Homo sapiens: one gene and its partners. Changing the gene in region 3 together with the main gene of any one other region gives a genetic interaction. Each region holds a gene or a part of one and is shown on either strand. Other genes may lie near its edges.

Region 1 (3,500 bases), on a different chromosome or scaffold from region 3:
CTCAGCCTCCCAAAGTGCTGGGATTACAGGCGTGAGCCACCGCGCCTAGCCTGGTGTCCCACCTTTATATCTCAAACTGTCTTTTTTCTCAATCCTTTGACTCCACCGGACTTTGTCACCCCCACGACCTGATGTTGGGTCTGATCACCCCAAGAGGTCCCATTTGTCAATTTTTGCTTTTGTTGCAGTTGCTTTTGGTATCTTCATCATGATACATGTAGATACGTGTGGTAAGACAGTGAAACTCCAGGGCCTCATATGACTCTATGGTGAGGCCAGAATCAAGTATGAAGGCTTCAAGATACATTCCTGAGAGTTAAGTGCCACATTTGCACTAAAGGGTGGCTTCAGGACCTGTTCTGTTTGGGTTTGGTAGGGACAGGGCAGTGGCCCATATTTTCATATTTTCATTACTGTAGTAGAAATTGTTGGTGTCTGTGGCAGGGGAGGGCACCTGTGGACGGTAAAAGAGGAACATATATTTTTATTTCCGTGGAGCAACTCATTGTTCCTGAATCTCTTCTGTTATAAAGGAGAAAGATGAGTGGACTTTTTGGTCTTGGTCCTTCTGTCTGTGAGTGTGAGGCTAGTAGGTAAGCAGGTGGTGCTGATGCCTTTAAGGGACTTGTCTCAAGATGCAGGTGTTACTTGTCCAGAGAATTTTATCTGAAAAGGATTTCTAGAGGAGGAGAAAGAGGAAAAATGCTTCTTTTCAGCTAAACATATCTCAGATCAAGAGCTGTGTCCACTCTGCCTCCTGGAGTGCCATGAGTTTAGTACTTGCAAACCTTTACTTCTCTACTTCTGTTTTCCCTCCCCAATGATTTTGTTTCACATACTTTTAAAAATTCTTGTGATAGTCAAGGATCTCTAAAAAATATTTCTATCCTATGTACGAGAGCCTTCTCTACATCATGGCTTCTTATATGCAATGCAGAATTCCTACCATGAATTTATGATCTGCCATATTAAAAGTGTTCCTTTTGTGGCTGCTGAACATGGGAAGATGTGGATACTCAAGATTCCTATTGGGGGAAAGCTGGGGTCCTTAGTAAAGATGGAGAACATATAATGTTGAGGTGTCGCTTGTGTTCTCCATTAGCTCTATGCAGAACAGGATTAAGAATATGCTTATTTAAACAGGATGGCATTTATTTATTTATTTATTTATTTTTATTGTTTGAGACAGAGTCTCGCTCTGTTGCCCAGGCTAGAGTGCAGTGGCGCAATCTCAGCTCACTGCAAGCTCCGCCTCCTGGGTTCATGCTTTTCTCCTGCTTCAACCTCCCAAGTAGCTGGGACTACAGGCGCCCACCACCACACCCGGCTAATTTTTTGTATTTTTAATAGAGACGGGGTTTCACTGTGTTAGCCAGGATGGTCTTGATCTCCTGACATCATGATCCGCCTGCCTCAGCCTCCCAAAGTGCTGGGATTACAGGTGTGAGCCACCACGCCCGGCCTGTTCAGGATAGCATTTATTACCCAGGAAGTTCTGGAGAAAATTATTCAGAGATACCTGCTTTCTAGGATGCTAAAGAAAGGACTACTTAAAATCATTACTAAAAATTATAGAACATGGGAGATATCTTGACCTTCGCATGAAACTGATTTTTTCTTTATGGTTAAATTCAGTCTATAATTGACTTTTTGAGGGGCAATATCTCAGCAGTGATGTTGTGTTCTTCTTTGTGCATCAGCACATCATAAAAATTTATTCTAGTGTTGTTGATGTTAATAATTTGCTTGGTTAAAGAGCTCTCTGACTTTTTTTCACTATAGAGTTAATTGTTTTTCTCTTTATTGTTAAGTATCTTTATGTAGCTAATAAACTATCACATTTAATCTGGCACCTGCCCTTTTTTCTTAGGTTTTTTTGTTTGTTTTTTGCACATATGTGTCTTTGGAAAATGAAGGCTCTTATCTTTGTTTACAGACCAAAAAAGTTGGGAAAAACACAATCTCTTTCACTTACTGAATGTCTGACAAAATAGTCTTCTGGGGTCAAAAACATTGGCATTGCTAGTAACCTTGTTAGAATTTTAAAAACTCAGACTTTATTCCAGATCTTCTGGGGAAAAAAAAAAAAAGCTTCACAACAGGATCTCCAGTTTATTGTACATATTTAAATTTGAGAGGTACCATCTAACTCAACATGTCTTTTTTTGTCTGAAAAATATACACAACTCATTATGATGTAAATATAGCACTCAAAAATGTATACGTTTGTGTCCTTAATTATATTCTTTATCATCCAGAAAAGTATTATATATGCACTGGTGTTGTGGATCTTATGCCATTCTCTGCCCTCAGAGTAATACATTAGAGAATATTTCTGTGTTAAAAATTATTGGATAATTTCAGTTATTCTTATAAGTCAACCAATTCTCTTTACTCTCTCATTTCACCTTAATTCAAATAATAAATTCTGCCCATGGCCACTTGGTAAATATACGTGTGTCTGTGCGTATGTGTTTTTCAGGAGACGTTGACATTTAGGGATGTGGCCATAGAATTCTCTCTGGAGGAGTGGGAATGCCTGAACCCTGCTCAGCAGAATTTATATATGAATGTGATGTTAGAGAACTACAAAAACCTGGTCTTCTTGGGTGAGAATAACTTTAATACATAAGTCTTAATATACCCTAAACGTTTTATGTCTCTTTTTTTGTAGAATTTTCTTTGGTAATTTATGCTTTGTATAAATGAGTTTCTGATCCCAGTTTTCAAGAAAATCTTGATGATTTGTCTCTGTAGAAAAGAATTTCTTCAACATGTTTCATCCTGACCTGAACTTTCCACATTCCTGAGCTGATCTGCATCCTTCACTCTAGATTAGTGGTAATTCCAGAAATTTGGTGGCATAAAATATTGCCCGTATCTTAAAATCTATTTTCCACTGTCAATTTTTGATTCATGAGTACCAGGTAGTGAAATTAAGGACCTACAAATTTAAAATATTTTCTAAATAGTTAGAGATGTGTCTCATTAATTAGTATTTTAGGATTAATTTTCTAAAATATTCTATTATATCCTTTTTACTGAGCACAGTACTAGGTTGGTAACTAGAGAATATAAGCAAGATTTATGCTATTTACTTTTAATAAAGCAGGTATTGCTGTCTCTAAGCAAGACCCGATCACCAGTCTAGAGCAAGAAAAAGAGCCCTGGAATATGAAGATATGTGAGATGGTGGATGAATCCCCAGGTAGGTGAGAGTGAACACAACAGATGACACAGATGAGAGGTACAAAGGTAAAAAAAAAAAAAAAGCAAGCCGGCCCTTACAATGTGATTTGGGAAGCTGTTTTGCAAAGTATATAGTTTCTGGGAAGACTGAATATTTTCTTAAAATTTTCTCTCACTAAAGGGCATCTTCTGTCTTATGCTTTTAAATTCTCTAAGAATTTTCCTTTTCCTTGGGTGAACACACAAATATCTGCATAATTTTGAAAAACACTGTTTTTTTTTGTTTTGTTTTGTTTTGTTTTTTGAGACAG
Region 2 (3,500 bases), on a different chromosome or scaffold from region 3:
TTACCCAACTATGAGCCATACCCAGCCTCCATTCCTTCACCCACACTGCCCTTGGCACACTAGACATCAAAGTTTCCACACTTTATCACACCCTTTTAAATTCTGAGAGACAGTGTCTCACTCTGCTATCTAGGCTAGACTGTATTTGGTGTTCTACCTTCAATGTAGCCCTCACCCCCCTTTTAAAAATACTAAACTTATAGGAAAATAAAATATTTTAAGGGCTGTGGTGTGAACACAGCTCACTGGAGCCTCAAACTCCTGGGCCCACTGGCTCAGGCAATCCCTCTTGCCTCAGCCTCCCAAGTAGCTGGGACTGCAAAGCACATGCCACCACACCTGGCTAATTAAAAAGAAAAATTTTTGGCCGGGCGCAGTGGCTCATGCCTGTAATCCCAGCACTTTGGGAGGCCAATGCGGGTGGATCACCTGAGGTCGGGAGTTTGAGACCAGCCTGGCCAAGATGGTGAAACTCTATCTCTACTAATAATAGAAAAATTAGCTAGGCATGGTGGTACACGCCTGTAATCCCAGCTGCTTGGGAGGCTGAGGCAGGAGAATCACTTGAACCTAGGAGGCAGAGGTTGCAGTGAGCCAAGATCCTGCCACTGCACTCCAGCCTGGGCAACAAGAGTGAAACTCCATCTCCCAAAAAAAAAAATTTTTTTTTCGTAGAGGCCGGGCATGTTGGCTCATCCCTATAAATCCCAGCACTTTGGGAGGCCAAGGCACGTGGATCACCTGAGGTCAAGAGTTTGAGAACAGACTGGCCAACTTGGTGAAACCCCATCTCTACTAAAAATACAAAAAGTAGCTGGGCGTGGTGGCAGACACCTATGGTCCGAGCTACTTGGGAGGCTGAGGCGCCAGAATCACTTGAACCTGGGACGGGGAGGCTGCAATGAGCTGAGATCATGTTACTGCACTCCAGCCTTGGTGACAGAGTTGGACTCTATATCAAAAAAAAAAAAAAAAAAATTGTAGAGACCGGAGTCTCACACTCCTGACCTCAAGCGATCCTCCTGCCTCAGTCTCTGCAACTGAGACTTTTATTTAGTTCCAGTTCTAAGGATCTGCCTTTACAAAATAAGCAAAGAAGTAAATAAAGTTTTATGCATACAGATCTAGTTTAGAGCAAAACATTAGAAATAGCCTAAGTGCTCACCCGTAGAAGCTCAAATAAGTATCAGTACATCACATACACTGGAATATATCCAAATGACAATAAAGCATTAAAAGTCTCATTAACTAATTAATCTTATGGAAAATTGATCAAAATCAATTAAGTGATAAATGCAATGTTTAACACCATATTTACAATTACAATCCAAATTGTGTAAAGAAAAAAAATGAGATCTGGATGAAAATGTATAAAATAAAAATGAATTTTCTCTAATATAAGGTAATTTTACTTTTACATTATTCCTTATTTTCCCAACTGTATAAAATATGAAAATAGTTCATCCTAAAAAAAAAAATCAAAACCATTTTGAAACAATAAAAGAATGACTGGCCAGGCGCAGTGGCTCACGCCTGTAATCCCAGCACTTTGGAAGGCCAAGGCAGGAGGATCGCCTAAGGTCGAGACCAGCCTGGCCAGCATGGTGAAACCCCGTCTCTACTAAAAATACAAAAATTAGCTAGGCGTGGTGGCGGGTGCCTGTAATCTCAGCTACTCGGGAAGCTGAGGCAGGAAAACTGATTGAACCTGGAAGGCAGAGGTTGCAGTGAGCCTGGATTGCACCATTGCACTCCAGTTGAGCATCAGAGTGAGACTCGGTCTCAAAAAAAAAAAAAAAAAAAAAGAGGCCAGGCACATTGGCTCATGTCTGTAATCCCAGCACTTTGGGAGACCGAGGTGGGCGGATCACCTGAGACCAGGAGTTCAAAACCAGCCTGAACTCCTGGTCTTGGTGAAACCCCATCTCTACTAAACCCCAACATGGTGAAACCCCATCTCTACTAAAAATACAAAAATTAGCTGGGCATGGTCGTGCATGCCTGTAGTCCCAACTACTCTACTCGGGAGGCTGAGGCAGGAGAATTGCTTGAACCCGGGAGGCGGAGGTTGCAGTGAGCCGAGATCACGCTATTGCACTCCAGCCTGGGCAACGGAGTAAGACTCCGTCTCCAAAAAAACAAACAAACAAACAAACAAAAAAAAACAAAAAAAACAAGAGGGGGCGCGGTGGCTCACACCTGTAATCCCAGCACTTTGGGAGGCTGAGGCGGGCGGCTCACGAGGTCAGGAGATAGAGACCATCCTGGCTAACACGGTGAAACCCCGTCTCTACTAAAAATACAAAAAATTAGCTGGGCATGGTGGCGGGCGCCTGTAGTCCCAGCTACTTGGGAGGCTGAGGCAGGAAAATGGTGTAAGTAAACCTGAGAGGCGGAGCTTGCAGTGAGCCTAGATCGCGCCACTGCACTCCAGCCTGGGCGACAGAGTGAGACTCCGTCTCAAAAAAAAAAAAAAAAAAAAAAAAAAAACAGAAACAAAAACAAGATTAAATCTTACCTTTTTTGGTCTTCAATTCCCCGTTCTAATGCCACAAGTGTTGGGATTACAGGTGTGAACCACTGCACCACTGCACCCACCCTAATACCCTTTTTATAAAGCTGCCAACTTCTATTCAAAACCTGCTATGGAACAAATACTCATGGCAAAAAAGCCTCAGTATCACACAGAAGTTGCATCACTGGGATGCTTCAGACAGGTTCAGACATTTTGAATAAAAACATCATTGGCTCTTAAGCCAGAGTACTGAAAATACCTCTAACCCAGAGATGTAAGATTTTGAAACCATATATTTTGGCACCCCTCCACCACAAGTCACTTTCCCAAAAGACAAGATGGACAAGAACCCAGCTTCCCCATTGCTAACCTGCAGTGTGCTGAGAGAATAAAGGTGAGGCTCGGAAGCGCCTGAATCCACAGTGAAATATGAGCTCTTCCTTGGCTTTCACAGGTTCAGTGTTGCCAGGGTCACGCCTCACCACCATATTCAATACTGACATCTGGGGACCAAGTAAGAAAAACAAAAATCTTCATAGTCTAGGAATACAATTGCCTAAACTGAAAGAAGGCAAACCAAACTAGCAGATTCAGACTCATTCTAAGAACTGACAATGCTAATTAATGGTGGAGTGTAGATGCTGAAACACGGGTTCATCCTTTACCTCCACCAATGACTGGCATTTAAGCCAAACACAGGCTGATCAGAGCTTTCATGCACCCTTCAATGCTAACCTACCTTCCTGCACCTAACAGAAAAGAGCTCAACATCTGCCACACAAAAATCAGTGGCCTTCAAGGCATTCACTCACCACAATCTCAAAACCACACTCATTCAAGCCCCTTCTTCTTGAGCCCTTACCAAAACCGATCAAAGAACTATCACATACCCCACAACATACACAACTACTGGCCACCAAGAGAAAAGAGATCTGCACTTTGGCATAAACTTTTTTTTTTTTTGACATAAGAGTTTCGCTCTTGT
Region 3 (3,174 bases):
GCCAGGCTGGTCTCAAACTCCTGGGCTCGGGCAATTCTCCTGCCTCGACCTTCCAAAGTGCTAGGATTACAGGCATGAGCTGCTGCGCTTGGCCCCTTTCTGATATTTTTTTTTTTTGAGATGGGTTCTCACTCTGTCACCTAGGCTGGAGTGAGTGCAGTGGCGAGATCTCAGCTCACTGCAACCTCCGACTCCTGGGTTCAAGCGATTCTCTTGCCTCAGCTTCCTGAGTAGCTGGGATTACAGGCACTCACCACCATGCCCAGTTCATTTTTGTGTTTTTAGTAGAGACAGGGTTTCACCATATTGGCCAGGCTGGTCCTGAACTCTTAACCCGCCTGCCTCAGCCTCCCAAGGTGCGGGGGTTACAGGCGTGAGCCACCATGCCCCTGGCCCCTTTCTGATGCTTGATCTGAGATCAGATTGCTTCTGTGGGAAACCAAAGAGCATTTAAATCTTACCCATTCAAAAATAACCCACTATTTTTAGGAGGACTCCCTAGAAGGGGTGCTTTTAGGCTCCCTGAGCAAGAAAAGGGCTTTTATCAACTCTCTAGAGGTAGTGAGTCAAGTGAGCTGGGCAAGTAAGTTGACCTCTGTATCTGCTTCCTCATCTGTAAAACGGGGCTGAGAATAGATATCTGGGAAATAATGTGCTCTTGAACTCTGGTTTTATCATATGCTGCCTCAACACTATTCAATCTTAATTATTCCCAAACTTTAACGTAGTGTTAAGCTGTTAGGTGGCAGGAGGGCACTGCTTTGAACAGAAGCAGGAAGTACCCTCAGCTGGGCTCTGGGGCTTTCAATTAGTTATTCCTCGACCAGGTGGTGTAGTGGTCTAGCTCATCAGCATTTTCTGTCAGTGGCTGCACGAATCTGGAAGCGTTTGCTAACGCCAGGGTAGCGCGCGCGCGCACACACACACACACACACACACACACACACACACACACACAGTCGAGATCACAAGCTCACTCAGGGGCTTAAGCAGAATCACCTCCAGCGAGGAGAGTGCAAACCGAGGCACAGGCCAATCCAAGTTATTGCTTTCACAGGTTTATAACTGCTGCTCTCACCTTTAAATAGGCCATCGTGAGGAGTGGCAATAAAGTAAATGGCACCAAATAGAGAAGGGCGGGCTGGGCGGCCCGGTGAATGCGAGACGCCACAGTAGCAGTGAGCAGGCCTGTGAGGAGAGAGAGGCATCTGTGAGACACGAGAGGGAACCCGTGTCACCTGGCTGCTGCTGGGCAAAGTCCTGCAACTGTACAGATCTAATGTGCTGTCGTCCATTCTATGGTTGGGGTGTGAAATGCCCAGCTTGGGCAGTTGAAGAAATGTGGATCAGCACAGCTTTAAAAAACACCTACAACTCCAAGGACACATGACTGACCCAAGTCTCACTCCTTGCTCAGGTTCCTGGGTTCAAACCCTCCTTCCAGCTCCAAGTGTGCCTCTGTCTCCTGTGATGCTGGACTTGGGAGGCAGAAGACCTGGGTTCAAGTTCCAACTCTGCTACTCACAATAGCTAACATAAATGTAGTTCAGACCTTCCACCTCTCTGAGCCTCAGCTTGCTCATCTGTCTAATGGGGATAATGCCACTTGCCTTGCCCCTCTGAGTTTGTGGACTGAAATGAACCCATGTGAATGAACTGCTGTGGGACGAGGACAGTGCTGGGGTTGAGGAGGACGTACGGAGTGCAAAAGCTCCTTTCCAGTCACTGTGCGGGAGCAGTTGCATGTGCGGGCAGGTTACTGCTTTTCCCAGCCCCATCACAATCATCTCCTGTCTGCCTACACATGAGCTGGCTACAAAACTTGGCCTAGGTCAGAGTGGCAGAAATGTAGAACTAATGAATGTAAGTAAGTATCTATTGAATAAAGTAGGAAATAAATACGACAGTCATTCAACTCTAGAGGAAGATTTAAGCACAGACTAATCCACTGCACTGTGTGCTGTGTGTCCTTGGCTTTGAGGACTGACCTGCTTTTCCTACAACGTTCTTCAGATACACAGCTGGAGAGGGAACTGGCCTATCCAGTACACAAAACACTTAGCATCTCACGGGCCAGGCTGTCTATTACAGCACCCAGAATTCCTGCTCTCCTTCCATCCAGTAACTGTAGCTAGAAGACCTGATTTAATTCCAAAGGTTGGAGGACAGCCAGAGCGAGGATCATCTGCAGTCTCTCTGGTTCTCTTACCTACAAAGTATCCGATGAGGGTGCAGTGAAAGTAGGAGACCTTCTGCATGCGCCCGGAGATGTTGGCAGGTCCAGGGGCCCCACAGGAGTCCCCACTGGCTTGCTTTTTGTAGTTGTCATAGCGAAGGACAAAGCATAGTAGGAGACCAGGCATAACGATGTCTCCGATGCCCAACATGGAGAAGTGGCTGCCAGTGGAGCTGGAATGCAGTTTCACAGGTTAGTGACGTCACACTCTACAATCCAGTTTCTATTCCTTTTGTGCAAAGTTTGTTAGCTTTTTAAGGAGTCAAAGAGCTTATCTGCATGGCAGATGGAAATCTCTTCTGATGGAACATTAGTTTTAAGAGTGTAGAGAGAAAAAGCTGCAACAGTACTGGCACTAGAGGTCTCCACCTTGGCCCCCCTGTTTCAGGAGAGCCCCTTGGAAGTGACTGCTGAAGTGATTTGCATAAGTGCTGCTTCCTCTAGAAATGTCAAACAATTCATCATTTGTGACACATTCACTGTTGAGACTTCAAATAAGCACCTGGCTACTATTACAGGTGGAAGATTAAAGCAGCACATTCATTCTGCCAAGATTATATTACCAGGAGTTGTATAATTCTACCATTAGAACTTATTTTTATAAATATCTTACAAGTTAAAAGGATCGAGATTCTCCTAACTCCCTCCAGCCAACTCTAAACAGTGGAAACAGCAGTAAGGCATGGCTGTTTGCTGACATTAATCAATAATAAAAGGCACCGCCTGGATCACTCAGTGATCCTTCTTGGCAAGCCAAGAATCTCATCCTCATTTCCTCTTCTGCAGCATGGAGATAATGGCCCCAGGTTGGGATCAGAATGCTGATGACATTAGAGACTGATCAAGGCCGGGAACAGATAGGCACAGGAAGACAGTGTGGTCCTGTCATAGCATGAGGTCTTACCTTGGGAAGACCAGTTTTCCAGGCAGAGACAGGC
Region 4 (3,500 bases), on a different chromosome or scaffold from region 3:
CTCAGTTCCCACACAGAAACGCTTTGGGGTGGCCTGAAGGCTGTGCTGCAGGGATGCTCAGCTCCGAACTCCACTCTCGCCCTCCCTGGGCCCTCCTCCTCCTCCTCCACAGAAACATACATGCAAGGCTGGGGAGTCTAGCCCCAGTGTGGAACAGGGTGGGAACAGGGTTGCCAACTGTTGACTGTGAGCTCCGGGGTAGGGACAACTTCATGAGGTGGTGCACATGGCCTCTCCAAGCCCTGGGTTTCCCAAATGTAAAATGGGAACTGCAGAGATAATCCGCTTCCCTGGGATGTCAGAGAGTTTAAAGGAGGTGGATGGAGAGGGCTTTGGAAACTGTGGAGTGGGACCCCCGGGGGGGCTGCTGATGAAGGGCGCTGAGCATCATCTGAGGAATGGGAGGGAGAGGAGTAACCCTGGAGGAGCTGGTTCCCCGAACCCTGGTGACCCCAACACCAGGTGGGCCAGGGTCAGGAGCGGGCAGCACTGCTCAGTCACCAAAACACAGCAGACTGCAGGGTTTGCATTCGAATTGGTCAGCATTCAAATAAAAGCGTAAAGGACCATCACTCAGGCACCCTGCAAGGGGTGTCACTGGGATAGAAACAACTCCCCGTTTTATTATGGGAAACAGCAAAACGCCTTTCTTCCTTTAATGCTGCTACCGATTTATTCCACAGGGAACATGCCCTCTCGATGACAGCAGGTGCCAGTGAAGACTCAGGTCACTCTATGCTCCCTGGTCCCTGAGCACCAGGACAGGAGAGTGTGAGTGTGTGTTTGTGTGTGTGAGTGAGTGTGGGTTTGTGTGAGTGTGAGTGTGTGTGTGCATGTGTGAGTGTGAGTGTTTGAGTGTGTGCTTGTGTGTGTGTTGTGTGTGTGTTTCTGTGTGAGTGTGTGTGTTTGTATATCTGTGTGTGTGTGTGTGTGAGAGAGAGAGAGAGAGTGTGTGTGTGTGTGTGTGTGTGTGTATGCTGGGAACTGATATCTGCCTGGGAAGCCACCATCACCCCTCCCCTTCCCACTCTTCCGGGGTCTCCATTTCGGCTTGCGTGGTGCCCACCATGCACAAAGAGCAGTCCCCTGGACTGGCTGTACTCACCCAAGCAGGGGTAGTTGGAGGACTCGGCTTGAACCTCGTAGCACCAGTGTGACTCTGGAGCAGAGAGGAAGGGTGTGAAGTGTGCGTGCGTGTGTCTTGTTGCTCACACACACAGGAGGATCAGAGGCTGGGCCTACCCCTGGGGTTGGAGCCCCTCTTGGGCTGGGATGGAGTGTTCCTGGCAGCAGGATTGAGGGCCCAGAAAAAGAGACTCAATTGAAAACCAAGCAGGGGCTGATCAACAGGTCAGCTGGCATAGGGCTCTGTTCCCCAGGCAGGGCCAGGCCAAGCAGCCACTGGCCCTCCAGGGAAGCCCTCTGAGGCCACTCATCTCTAACATGGGGCTGGCTTGGATACTCCATCCTTTGGTCACCAGCAGCCTCCTCCGCGCTTACCTCCCCCACCCCAAACCTGGAAAAGAGGCTGGTGAGAGGAGAAGAGGAGGACTTGGCCCAGCCTCCGCTCCTGGGACAATAGAGTCAGGTTCAACCGGGCAGCCTTCCCAGATCCAAGATGAGGGAGGAGATTAGGCGGCCCCTCCCCAGAATGTCTCACCCTGTGTTACTAAGATCCCTTCTTGGCTAGCGTCTCACAGCTCCCGCTAGGAGGAAAGCAGCCAGGCTTCCTCCCCTGCCCCTCAACCGCACAGTCCTGATCTCTGGGGACAGGCTGAGGGCTCTGCCTCAGGGCAATAGAACCCAGCATCTCTGAAAAAAAGGCTGCACCTCAAATGTCCCACATGGATGCAAGATGTTAATAAGAGGGGAAAGTGCATGCAGGGCAGAAGGGCCTATGGGAACCCTCTGTACTTCCTGCTGAATTTTTATGTGAGCCTAAAATTGCTCTAAAAATAAAGTCTATTAATTTTTTTAAAAGGCTGCACCAGCAGGGCGAACACAACATCTCATCCAGAGCTTGGAATTCTGGCTGAGCCGCTCAGGGGGCTTAGATGGGTTTGGGGGCAAGTCCCTTAAGCTCTCTGAGCCTCAGTTGTATCATCTGTAACATGAGACAAACATACCCACCTCATAGGGCCTTGGGGAGGATTAAATGAGGTTTCAGGCGGCTTGGCACTTAGTAAAATCCCATCGACAACTCCTTCCCTCCCCCCCACCCCTCCCACCCACCCCATGGCCTCCTTTTGGGAGCAGATGGCCAAAGCCAAGGAGGGGCCGAGAGAGGAGAGAAATGAAGTGACTTGGAAAGAAATCAAGATGAGGAAATTCCTAAGAAAAGCACGGTTCCCACTCAGCCAAAGCTGAGGTCTCTGAGCTCATCCACCCTCTCCCTTCTTGCCTGGGCTGCCCCCACAGTCCCATCTTCTTGTAGTCTAAGCCAGGGTAGAGTCCCCGGAGTGGGGACAGGATGGGGAAGGAGCCATGAGGGAGCATCCCCAGGAAAACTAACTGGCCACGAAGAGCTGCTTTGGGCTTTGGAGTTTCCCTGCCCTGATCACTGCCTCTCCTTCCCTGCTGGCATCGCCTTTTTCAGAGCTGCAGTGTCCTCCCCCTGATGGCCCATCCCCAGCCCCGGGCAGGGCTCTGCTGTCCCTGGGAGTTGCTGCACCTGAACCACCCCCATGTGGGTGGATTCTGCAGAGGGCAGTGGCCACTCGCCACCCCAGCAGTGGGGCAGAGCTCCGAAGCCTCCAGCTCCCGCTCTGCCTTTGCTCAGTCTCCACAGGGGAGTTATCTGACATTCTGAGTCCCATAATCTTCCTCTGACAGAAGGCATGTTACAGGAAAGGGGTCCCGATCCAGACCCCAAGAGAGGGTTCTTGGATCTTGCACAAGAGAGAATTCAGGTTGAGTCTGCAGTGCAAAGGAAAAGCACGTTTATTAAGAAAGTACAGTGGTGAAAGGACAGCTACTCCATAGACAGAGTAGGACATTCCCAAAAGTCAGAGAAGGAAGGAATGCATTCAATGCGTTGTATATATGGGGACATGTGCTCTGCTACAAGGGTTTGTGATAAAGGATTAATTTTCTTAATTACTACATTATCCAAGAATTGATATTATTATTATTATTGAGATAGAGTCTCGCTCTGTTGCCCAGGCTGGAGGGCAGTGGTGGGCTCTTGGCTCACTGCAACCTCCACTTCCCAGTTTCAAGCAATTCTCCTGCCTCAGCCTCCTGAGTAACTGGGATTACAGGCATGTACCACCATGCCCAGCTAATCTTTGTATTTTTAGTAGAGACAGGGTTTCACCATGTTGACCAGGCTGGTCTCGAACTCCTGACCTCAAATGATCCACCCGCCTCGGCCTCCCAAAGTGCTGGGATTACAGGTGTGAGCCACCGTGCCCAGCCAACATTATTATTTTTAAAGCAAAATTAGGAATGCCTTTGCTCTCCAGATATCGGAGTATCTGGACCTTCCCAAGTCTGGGTCT
Region 5 (3,500 bases), on a different chromosome or scaffold from region 3:
TTTAGCAAAATGGAGAGCAATTCTATAGACACTCCAAAATCCCTAGATGCTATATAAACGAATACCAAACAAAAACGTGTATGCATAAAAACACACATATCATGGTATACAAAGTGTGGAATTAATTTAACGCCTATAACCCTGTACCTAAAGGTTTGACTTTATCCCATAGGTTTGACTCTATCCCATAGAATAGGGATAGTATCTTGTCTTAAATGCCAAGCTGTGTAGGGTACTCAATTGAAAACGTAAGTTTTCAAGACCTAGCACTTTTTTGGGGGGATGAGGGAGTAGGGCATTTCTTTTCCCCAAGTTTTTTTTTTTTTTTTGATATGGAGTCTCGCCCCATCACCCAGGCTGGAGTGCAGTGGTGCAATTTCAGCTCACTGCAGCCTCCGCCTCCCAGGTTTAAGTGATCTTCCTGCCTCAGCCTCTCTAGTAGCTGGGATTACAAGTGTGTGCCACCACGCCCAGCTAATTTTTGTATTTTTAGTAGAGATGGGGTTTCACCACGTTGACCAGGCGGGTCTTGATCTCCTGGCCTCAAGTGATCAGCCTGCCTCAGCCTCCCACAGTGCTGGAATTACAGGTGTGAGCCACTGTGCCCAGCCATCCCCAAGTTTTTATTACAGAAATTTTTAAACATAAAAACAAATTAAACCCAATACAATCATGGCTTAGTTATCAACATTTTGTCAGTCGTGTTCATACATCTGCTTCCTTAAAGTGAATCCCAATATTTTAAAATCATTTTTTAATAGTACAGACTTTTCTTACCTGCAGGAAATCTATGCGGCCTATAGCACCCAAAAACAGAACCATTCCTGGTTTAAGCACAAAAGTTCTTGGAACAATGGACTGTGTTGGCAAAACAATATTTACTTCTTTTTCTGTTAGAAGATTTAAAATCTGTGAAGCAAATGGCAGATTTTTAAGAAAATACTTTTATTGAAAATATGATATATTATGATTTACCCGTAAAATAAAAAGTGATGAAAAATATGCCAGACTTCAAAATAAACCAAATTATGTCAGAGTTTGCTATGCATCAAATTTATATAGATTCTTCCTGTCTAAATTAATTTCAATCTGATGGCTCTACCCTTGTTTTACAACTTAATCTACAGTAATGGCAAAATAACTTTATAGGTGTATGAGACTTTCCTATGTCAGCAGCATTCCCTAAATGTCAAAATTAATGTGAACCTGAAAACATGTTGATTCAATACCAAGATAGAAAATATATGCTCTCCTTATCAAGGCTTGTGGGCAGTAGCAATTTCCGCTTAAAGTAATGGTATACGTGACCTTATGTCCTAGTGGTAAGTATGCATGCATTAAATGCAAAATGGTCACCCCATTCTAGGAGCAAGTAAAGTGGCTGAAGAACCTCTTTCTAAATTCTGGTCTTCAATTTCCTTATTTCTCCCAAATATTCAGCAGAGAATGAGAAAAAGTTATAAATCCCCTATGCTTATAACACAGAGGATTTATAATTTATCCCTATGATTTATAATAAATCCCTTCTAAGGATGACAAGTTCCTAGAGAGACTAGAGAAAAATAGAAAAGGAAAGACAGAAGTACAAGATTCTGCAAAGATTTAAGGAATCAAAATCTGGTTAAAAAAGAATAAAGAAGGTACAAATTGGACACAAAACTTGTAAACTTCTTTCTTAACAAGAGGCTGGGCGCGGTGGCTCACGCCTGTAATCCCAGCACTTTGGGAGGCTAAGGCGGGCAGATCACCTGAGGTCAGGAGTTTGAGACCAGCCTGAACAACATGGAGAAAGCCCATCTCTATTAAAAATACAAAATTAGCCGGGCGTGGTGGCGTGCACCTGTAATCCCAGCTACTCGGGAGGCTGAGGCAGGAGAATCACTTGAATCCGGGAGGCGGAGGTTGTGGTGAGCCGAGATTGCACCACTGCCCTCCAGCCTGGGCCATAGAGCAAGACTCCGTCTCAAAGGAAAAAAAGAGAATAACAAGAAAATAAAAAATAGAAATGATACATAGCAGCTCACAAAAAAATAATAAGGGGGCTGCAGATAGTTTTCTTCATTATTTGTGTTTGAAAAGGCACATTAAAAGCCATTTGCAGGTCAGCCATGGTGGCTCATGCCTGTAATCCCAGGACTTTCAGAGGCAGCGGCAGGCAGATCACTTGAGCTCAGGAGTTTTTTTCTTTTTTTGAGACGGAGTCTTGCTCTGTCACCCAGGCTGGAGTGCAATGGTGTGATCTTGGCTCACTGCAACTTCTGCCTCCCGGGTTCAAGCAATTCTCCTGTCTCAGTCTCCCAAGTAGCTGAGATTACAGACGTGCGCCACCATGCTTGGCTAATTTTTTTGGTATTTTTAGTAGAGACGGGGTTTTGTCATGTTGGCCAGGCTGGTCTCGAACTCCTGACCTCAAGTGATCCACTTACCTTGGTCTTCCAAAGTGCTGGGATTACAGGTATGCACCATTGTGCCCAGCTGAGCTCAGGAGTTTGAGACCAGTCTGGGCAACACGGCAAAACCTCACCTCTATGAAAAATACAAAAATTAGCTGGGGTGGCGTGTGTCTGTAGTTCCCAGCTACCCTGGAGGCTGAGGTGGAGGATTGCTTGAGCCAGGGAGGCAGAAGTTACAGTGGGCCAAGATTCCACCACTGCACTCCAGCCTAGACCAGACTGGGCAACATAGCGAGGTCCTGTCTCTACAAAAACTAAACAATTAGTTGGGCATGGTGGTATGTACCTGTGGCCCTAGCTACTTGGGAGGCTGAAGTGGGAGAATTGGTTGAGCCCAGGACTTTGAAGTTACTTGATCACGCCACTGCATTCCAGCCTGGGCAACAGGGGAAACCTTGTCTCTCTTTTTTGTTGAGACAGGGTTTCACTCTGTTGCCCAGGCTGGGCTGCAGTGGCATGATCTCGGCTCACTGCAACCTCTGCCTCCCAATAAGTGTATCAAGTGATTCTTGTGCCTCAGCCTCCTCAATAGCTGGGATTACAGGCATGTACCACCATGCCCAGCTAATTTTTTGTATTTTTAGTAGAGATACAGTTTTGGCATGTTGCCCAGGCTGGTCTCAAACTCCTGGGCTCAAGCAATCCTCCCACCTCGGCCTCCCAAAGTGCTGGGACTACAGGTGTGAGGCACTGTGCACAGCCTGAGTCTTAATACTTTCATTTCACAACAGAGATCCTTGGTTCAGTCTGGGAAACCCTGGTTTAAGACATCAAATAAGTTTATCTGTAAACTAACAGAGAAGCAAACTACCAGTGCTGACAGACGTTTATATCTAAAAATTTGGGGTTCTCATTCTGCTGTCTAGAGTATTTTGCAAATTCTTGCCTTTCTGACACAACTATTTAATAGAGGATATATGACTGAAGTAACTGCTATGCCTGATCTAATAGCATCTGAAAGGGAAGAATTAGTCTGGGCGTAGTGGCTCCCATCCACAATCCTAGCACTTTGGGAGGCTGAAGTGGGTGGATTACCTGAGGTGAGGG
Region 6 (3,500 bases), on a different chromosome or scaffold from region 3:
AAACCCCATCTCTACTAAACATACAAAAATTAGCCAGGCAGGTGGCACACACCCGTAATCCCAGCTACTCAGGTGGCTGAGGCACGAGAATCGCTTGAACCCAGGAGGCAGAGGTTGCAGCGAACAAAGATCACGCCACAGCACTACAGCCTGGGTGACAGAGTGAGACTCTGTCTCAAAAAAAAAAGAAAAATTGTTTAAATAAACACACACACAGACTCAATCTCGCTGGCAATCAAATCAATGCAAATTGAAACATCCAAAAATATTTGCACCTCCCAAATATTTAAATACTATGCATACCAGAATCCAGCGCTGAGGACAGCATAAATTGATCCAACATTTAAAAAACAAAAGCATTTGCTGGGCACGGTGGCTCACGCTTGTAATCCCAGCACTTTGGGAGGCCAAGGCAGGTGGATCACGAGATCAGGAGATTGAGACCATGGTGAAACCCCGTCTCTACTAAAAATACAAAAAATTAGCTGGGCGTGGTACTGGGTGCCCTATAGTCCTAGCTACTCGGGAGGCTGAGGCAGGAGAATGGCGCGAACCCGGGAGGCGGAGCTTGCAGTAAGCCAAGATCGTGCTACTGCACTCCAGCCTGGGCGACAGAGTGACACCCCATCACAAAAAAAAAAAAAAAAAAAAAAAAAAAGCAATACAGTTCAAGAGCCATAATGATGTTCAAAGCCCTTTATAGAGTAAACTCACTGTTAGGAAATTTATGCCAAGGAATTATTAACTGATGAAAATGATCTATACGCAAAGGTAATCACTGCAGATTTATCCAAAATAATCAAAAACTGAAATCAACAATGATGTTCAATAACAGGAATTGGTCAGGTACGTTATGGTTGGTTTATCCACTGATGGAATAATATATAACCATTAAGAATGATGATCACGGCCAGGTGCGGTGGCTCACACCTGCAATCCCAGCACTTTGGGAGGCCAAGGAGAGCGGATCACTTGAGGTCAGGAGTTCAAGACCAGCCTGGCCAACATGCTGAAACCCCATCTCTACCAAAAATACAAAAAAATTAGCCAGGCATAGTGGCGCAGGCCTGTAGACCCAGCTATTCAGGAGGCTGAGACATGTGACTCGCTTGAAGCCAGGAGGCAGAGGTTGCAGTGAGCCAAGATCACACCATTGCACTCCAGCCTGGGCAACAGAGTGAGACTCCGTCTCAAAAAAAAAAAAAAAAAAAAAAAAGATGATCATGAAGACTATATAGCAACTTCGAAGAGTGTTTCCAATAATATCAAGTGAAAAATGAATTTCTCAATGTATACATACTATGATTATAACCACAAAAATATCTTTGCATAGGGACAGAGACAGCAGAAGCAAGAAAGGAGGAAAGCAGCTACTGTGCTAAGGTATCTATTTTTTTTCTCTAACTTCATTGTAGTGGACATCGGTGGTTTCTGCCTAGCCAGCAGTCATTCCCCATTCTTCCGTAACATCCTTCTAATTTTCCTTTGGGAACAACCCCTCCCTGTCTCTCAGCAATGTGGTTTGGATGAAGCTAAGTCCACTCCCCATCTCAGGCCTGAGCAATCAGAGCTTTTTATCTCCTGAAGCACAAGTGATGCAATGATATGTATACGAAGTCCGCCAGCCAGGACAATTAGACTCAGTCCAGGAGCTTCTGCTCACTTCTGGATAAAGGGCACACTTTGTCTAGGTTTGCTAAGCAAGTATCAACAGAACAGCAACTCGAGTGGCTGGTGGCCATTTTTGGTACAGCAAGGTGAGAGTCTTTCCAAAATGAGGTCAACAGAGAAAACCAGAACTAAGAGATTGTGAAAAGAGGAGAGGCAAAAAGACATCAAGTAGTTGTGAAATTATTTAAGCCCTTGAATCCAGCCCTGCCTGATGCCAGGCCTATTTCTGGACTTCAGAGTTACAAGAGCCAATTTCCTTTGAGTTGACTTTCTCTCCTTTTAAATAGAGTGCTAATATGCTTGTTAAAACATTTTCCTACAATTACACAGCTTAGTTTTTTTTTACTTAAGTATCATGCACAATGACCTACGTAAAACCTAACTCCGCATACAGTTTTCTTTCCATCATACCTGTGTTCTGTAGTAATGACAACAACCTAGTGAATGCCTGCTTAAAAAGGACTGTGATAGGTTGTTTTACGTGCCTTTTCAAATTTTTCACAGCAAAAAGACTTTCCCCTTGCTGTAGCAAAAATGGTCACCAGTCACTTGCTTAGCAAACCTAGATAGGTATTATTTTACAATTTGGAAACTGAGATTCATGGAGATAAAAGAACTTGCCAGATAATAAAAACAAAACCAAAAATAATTATCATCCTTTGAATGTTTTACCTTGGTCTGATTTCAAAGCCTATGTACTTCCTAATAAAATCCAGATTATTAGCTGGCTGTTCACTTATTCATTTAAACCTTTATGCTTCAACCAAGTAGGCACTGATACCAAAGATTTTTACCTAAAGAAGTCCAAAGCACACTTGTTGACCAGTTTGCCTTCCTCTAAACACCGCCTCGGATCTTTCTCTTCCCAGCGGCAGAGCATAAACTCCTTGTTGGGCTTATCACATTGAGCTCCATAGTGATGGGCCGCAGCTTTAAGCACAGCAGAACTAATTTTCACCTAGGAAAGGAAAGATGGGACAAAGGCCACAGACTGTGAACCAGAATACCACTTTCTCAGCTTTACCTCATGCGGGTCAGAATAGAGAACACAAAAGTAGCACTGTTCTGACTTTACCAAGAAAATTAAACACTGTCATAATAATAATTTTTTTTTTTTTTTTTGAGACAGGGTTTCACTCCCATTCCCCAGGCTGGAGTGCAGTGGCGCGATCTCGGCTTACTGCAACTTCGGCCTCCGAGGCTCAAGCGATTCTGCTGCCTCAGCCTCCCAAGTAGCTGGGATTACAGGCATAAGCCACCTCGCCCAGCGATTCTTTAAAATCTATGGTGATTTAGAGAACGCAAAGCTCTTTCACATATATTATTTTCTTCACTTTTACAATAGTCTCATGAAGAGATTAATATTCCCATTTTAGAGCAGAAGAAATGGCACCCCTAATAGAATCTTTATTTATGGTAGAGAGAAAAGGGGTGTAGAGAAGGATGGAGTCTTCTGGGATGCAGGGAGAGGAACCAACTCTGGAGAGCTTTGCTGAGTTTCTGCTGCTGGAATAAAATTAATAGATATATAAGGCTGGGCACAGTGGCTCATACAGGTAATCCCAGCACTTTGGGAGGCCAAAGCAGGCAGATCACTTGAGGCCAGGAACTCAAGAACAGCCTGGCCAACATGGTGAAAGCTTGTCTTTAGTAAAGATACTAGAGATGTATCTGGGCGTGGTGGTGCACACCTGTAATCCCAGCTACTAGGGAGGTTGAGGCATGAGAATTGCTTGAACCCAGGAGGCAGAGGTTGCAGTGAGCCAAGATCATGCTACTGCACTCCAGCCGGGGTGACAGAGCAAGACTCTGTCTCAAAAAAAAAAAAA
Region 7 (4,204 bases), about 120 Mb from region 3:
TCCATGCACCTGCCCCTTCCATTTCTCCTCAGATGGAGGTTAATTAATCAGTCTCAGACTCTAGCTAGAAACCTCCAGCACACTCACCACAGACCTGGTGTCCGCACCCTTCCTCTCAGGCTTCTGCGCATGTCTATCCCTCCACATCAAGCATCCAAGACACACAGCCAGATAATGCCCATCGGGCCTCCACCTCTGAATTCCTGACTCCTGGGCCATCACACTAGCCCTAGGGTGTGCCCACTCCCCTGGCATCTCCCCTTGGTCAAGAGTCCATACCCCTCAGCATGGAAGAGTCACAGAACTCAGGGGTAAAGGGGGCATTTGCAGCCTACTCTGCCGCCCCCTTCACTCTGCAGAAGGCCAGAGAGAAGCAGAGCCACGACTGGGCCCACACCCTGGGCCTGCAGGGGCCGTGCCCTTCCACCAACCCCAGGAAGGCTGAGAGGGAGCCCGGAGAGTGGCCAGCCAGAGCCCCGGGCCAAAGACGGCCCGAGATTCCATGTGGCCAGGACGCAGGGGAGGCTGCCACAGCCGTCTAGGCTGGGCTCCGCCTACCGCTGCCTGTCTGGGCACCCAGGCCCTCTAGGACAGCTGCCCATCACCCCCATCACACACACTGCCCAGGCAGCAAGGAACCAGGTTTTAAAAATCTCTATATTTGTACTTGGAACAGCCATATACCCTCCTGGTTCATTTTAAAACACATGCCCCATCCTCACCCCCAGCCTCCTGCACCCCCGTTTCCTTGTCAAATATTCTCAATCTCAAACAGACCCTCTGGGAAGCAGAACAGAGAAGCCTCCTGAGTGGCCCCTCATGGGAGCTGGTCCCTGACATGAAGGAGGCTAAGGTGTCCACTGGGCCCTGGGGCCGGGCTCAGGGTGGTGTCCCTGGGGCTGGGCTCAGGGTGGTATTCCCAGGCAGGGCACAGGAGGCTTGGCTGGGGGAAAAAGGAGGAAGACCAGAGGGGCAGACAGCCTCTATGCTGGCTCCTTTCTCCTCTGCCCACCCCCAGAACTCCCAGACACCCCCAACCATCACATACATGCCATCCCCTCCTCCTTCCTACACTGCCCACTGAGGCCATAGCAGCCCAGAGGCGGCCCCTGGGCTCTGGTGCCTGGGAAACGGGAGCAGAGTTTGCTCCTCGTGGGCCCAGACAAGCTTCTGTCAAACCCCAAAGACACCAGATCGGCTGCTTAAGCAGCCTCTCTCCTTACCCCTCCCCGCGGGCCTGGCTTTCCTGGTCTCCCTCTTTTGGCAGTGCTGAGACTTTCTTTCTGCCGGTGGGGAGGTGGGGGTGGGAAAAGCTGGGCTCTTCTTGGCAGCTCGGAAGCTGCTGTCGGGTTTCCCTACCAGCTGGACTTCCCCCGCCTCAGCTCCACGTGCTCGGCTCCCTCCCCGCCCCCACCTGAGGCAGTTATCTAAGCTGCAGGGGTGTCATCTGAGTCACAAAGAGACACTGCCCAAGTAGCCCTGACAGCCGGGTGCCAACACCCCCCAGAAATGTGGACAGCTTGGGGGTGGGGGAGAGACAGGGCCGCCAACTGGAACCCAGCCCCAGACCTGCAGGGAGGTGCAGGAATGTGAACTTCCGACTCCTGGTCAGGCTGCTCCTCTCTCCAGCACTGTCCAAATGGGTCTGGGGGATTGAGAGCAACTGTCCCGCTCTACTCAGGGTGTCCATGCCCCCTGTGTGGGTCAAGAAGCCAGGCAGGCCTGGCCCCGCTGTGTACCCCCCACCCAAGCTCAGTGTCCAGCCCCCACTAAGGCTCCCTGACCCATTTGCAGATGGACGGCTGGGTGCACAGCTGCGGGACACCCCAGCAGGTTCTCGCGGGCCTGGTTCTCCTGTCTTGCCCTTGGGCTAGCAGGGAAGGGCTGCGATACTTCTCTCTCCTGCCCACTCCCAGCCTCACCCTCACCAGGGAGGCTTCATGCACAGCTGAGTGGGCCCATGCTCATCTGGGGGAGGGTTCCTCCACACCCTTGTCCAAGGACAGCCACCTGCAGGCAAGCTATAGGGAGGCCCAGGACCTGGGTCTGTGCCCATGCCTCTGACATCCAGGACCTCCTCCCTGCCACCCTCCACCCCAAGCCTTCCTCTGACCTGGCCCTGTCCCCAGCACCTGACTGCCATCCCAACCGCTTCCCATGACCCCCGAGTTTCTTGGGGCTGTCTGTGCAGAGCCGGGCACAACGACAGCACAAGGCTCTTGGCTGCTTCTCCCATGCTGCAGGGACCGGTTTCTATGCCACCCGGGACTGTCATCTGGCGCCAGCGCTGCCCTCCTCCCCACTTCCCAGCAGAATCCACAGCTCTTGTCCCCAGCACTGTGGGCTCAGAGTTCCCAGTGTCGTGCACCTTTGGGATGCTCAGGTGCCTGAGCCCGAGCAGCTTCTTCGGCCCCAGCAATTGCCTGCAGGTAGGAAGCAACTGCAGCTATTCCTGCAGGGCAGAGATGGCCGGTGCCCACTTCCCATGCCCCGACCACCCCCTGTCCCCACCAACCCTCCATTCCTTCCTACCAGCCACTCGGTACTCACCCGTCTTTACTCTGACTGCAAACGCCTTCAATCAGGTGGCTCTCAACCCTCCAGTAAGACCCTCCTGGGATTCCTATAGAAATCCAGACACCACCGGCAGGCAGAGCGCAGTGGGCACTGGTGCCAGAGTCTCCACTCAGCGGGAGCAGCGGCTGGCACGCAGCACACAGCACCAGGAGGTGGACTGCTTGTGGCAGACGGGGGACGGGGCTGCTGGGTCAGTCACAAACTGAGAAGGAAAGAGAGGGATGGAGGGAGAGAGAGAGAGGAGAGAGGGAAGAAAGGGGCGAGGGAGGAGAGCGCACGCGTGTGCGCGAGCAGCGAGCCAGAGTGGAGCGGGGAGTGACAGCTGGGGTGCATCTGTGATGACAGCGGCAGCAGCACACACAGGCGCACACCAGAGGCACCACGGCCGGCCGCGAGGGCAGCGCTCACCCTGGCCACGCTCACATTTCAGTGGAAAAAGGCGCCTGTGGATGAATCGCTGCCGACCACAGGGAGGAGGAAAGCGGTTTCACCACCACCTCCATCTTCCATCCTGCGCCTCCAGGCTCTCCCTCACCCCCCCGGCTGCACCTGTCTTCTGTGCCTCTCTCCTCTCTTCCCCTCCATCTGGGGAAAGAGGGACAGGCGCAGACACAGAGCAAGCGGCTGACTTCTGTTCCGATGGAGGCCCCCCTGGGAAGCTGGTCTTTCTCCTGTTTTAGAGACATGCGAGGCAGAGTCTCCCATCCTGCCTGAGAGAAGGAAAAACCGAACCCTTCTCTCGGTCATACGAAAGAAGGGTACACAGGCATGTCCATGTGCCAGATGACCCTACAGGAAAGGGCCCTGAGCCCCCACAAAGCCAGGGATCACATGGTCATGCAGAGGTCACTGAGCCTCAGGGTCTGACCACCCGACGCCAGGACTACTTAGGGAAGCAGAATGCCAGAGTTGGCAGGCTGGGAGTTTGGGCACAGGGCAGCCTGCAGCAGCAGCCTGCAGACCGTTCTCAGTGCCAGGGACGAGCTTGGCTTCTCAGGGCTCCTTGCTCTTATCTGTGATGGGTCAGGCATGCGAAGGGAAGAGACTGTCATTCAAGAACTTGGAGGCCTCTTTCTTAACCAATCAGGACAAAGCAAGTCAGAAAAATTGATATCCTAAGAGATGGGAAGTGGCTGATCTGAAGGCCAAGTGAGTCAGGGACCAAGCTAGAGGGGAGCCAGGGCCCCACCAGCCTGGAGCACGAACCCTAAATCCCCCTTCCTTTGCGTCCACTGCCTGTAGACAGATGAAGCACCGTGCTAGCGATATATCACCGTGTCCTATGTCCCTCTTCCATTTTGCCTGCTTTGCTGGAGGGGTTCACAGCCAGGACTGGGGTGGGTGTAGAAGAACCCCCTGGACTCAGGATGCCCCTAGAAGGATGCTCCTGCTCACTCCCTTCTGTCCGTTCTGCCGGGTCCCCGGGCAGCACAAGGCTTGAGCTGCAGTGTCTTTTACCTCTGGGGAGTCCCGCCTCTGACCTCTCATGCTGGTGCCTCCCACACATCCCACTGTCAAGCAAAAGAGGCTCCCACCTCCCCATAAACATACTTCCTGCTTCTCCATCTCCATGAAAGCGTGTTCTTCCCTGGGCCTGAAATGCTCTCCTGCCCATGGGTGGCTTCCC

Evidence for each region.
Region 1: changes in SPPL3 (region 3) and ZNF714 together harm fitness less than expected from each alone (positive genetic interaction), as found in Homo sapiens cells (one large-scale study listed by BioGRID).
Region 2: changes in SPPL3 (region 3) and TSR1 together harm fitness less than expected from each alone (positive genetic interaction), as found in Homo sapiens cells (one large-scale study listed by BioGRID).
Region 4: changes in SPPL3 (region 3) and CA4 together harm fitness less than expected from each alone (positive genetic interaction), as found in Homo sapiens cells (one large-scale study listed by BioGRID).
Region 5: changes in SPPL3 (region 3) and NOA1 together harm fitness less than expected from each alone (positive genetic interaction), as found in Homo sapiens cells (one large-scale study listed by BioGRID).
Region 6: changes in SPPL3 (region 3) and NDUFA8 together harm fitness less than expected from each alone (positive genetic interaction), as found in Homo sapiens cells (one large-scale study listed by BioGRID).
Region 7: changes in SPPL3 (region 3) and LRTM2 together harm fitness less than expected from each alone (positive genetic interaction), as found in Homo sapiens cells (one large-scale study listed by BioGRID).

The regions. Positions count from the first base shown.
Region 1 is NC_000019.10:21,095,703-21,099,202, forward strand, and holds part of ZNF714 (zinc finger protein 714), read left to right. Parts: intron 1-2,482; 5' UTR 2,483-2,566; coding exon 2,567-2,609; intron 2,610-3,109; coding exon 3,110-3,208; intron 3,209-3,500. UniProt on the Homo sapiens protein: May be involved in transcriptional regulation.
Region 2 is NC_000017.11:2,326,458-2,329,957, forward strand, and holds part of TSR1 (pre-rRNA-processing protein TSR1 homolog), read right to left. Parts: intron 3,019-3,500; coding exon 2,886-3,018; intron 2,754-2,885; exon of another isoform or gene 2,668-2,753; intron 1-2,667. UniProt on the Homo sapiens protein: Required during maturation of the 40S ribosomal subunit in the nucleolus.
Region 3 is NC_000012.12:120,765,185-120,768,358, forward strand, and holds part of SPPL3 (signal peptide peptidase-like 3), read right to left. Parts: coding exon 3,141-3,174; intron 2,410-3,140; coding exon 2,210-2,409; intron 1,189-2,209; coding exon 1,079-1,188; intron 1-1,078.
Region 4 is NC_000017.11:60,152,973-60,156,472, reverse strand, and holds part of CA4 (carbonic anhydrase 4 preproprotein), read right to left. Parts: intron 1,160-3,500; coding exon 1,106-1,159; intron 1-1,105. UniProt on the Homo sapiens protein: Catalyzes the reversible hydration of carbon dioxide into bicarbonate and protons and thus is essential to maintaining intracellular and extracellular pH. May stimulate the sodium/bicarbonate transporter activity of SLC4A4 that acts in pH homeostasis.
Region 5 is NC_000004.12:56,967,607-56,971,106, forward strand, and holds part of NOA1 (nitric oxide-associated protein 1), read right to left. Parts: intron 910-3,500; coding exon 778-909; intron 1-777. UniProt on the Homo sapiens protein: Involved in regulation of mitochondrial protein translation and respiration. Plays a role in mitochondria-mediated cell death. May act as a scaffolding protein or stabilizer of respiratory chain supercomplexes. Binds GTP.
Region 6 is NC_000009.12:122,149,780-122,153,279, forward strand, and holds part of NDUFA8 (NADH dehydrogenase [ubiquinone] 1 alpha subcomplex subunit 8), read right to left. Parts: intron 2,630-3,500; coding exon 2,466-2,629; intron 1-2,465. UniProt on the Homo sapiens protein: Accessory subunit of the mitochondrial membrane respiratory chain NADH dehydrogenase (Complex I), that is believed not to be involved in catalysis. Complex I functions in the transfer of electrons from NADH to the respiratory chain.
Region 7 is NC_000012.12:1,819,161-1,823,364, reverse strand, and holds the start of LRTM2 (leucine-rich repeat and transmembrane domain-containing protein 2 precursor), read right to left. Parts: upstream 2,801-4,204; 5' UTR 2,551-2,800; intron 1-2,550.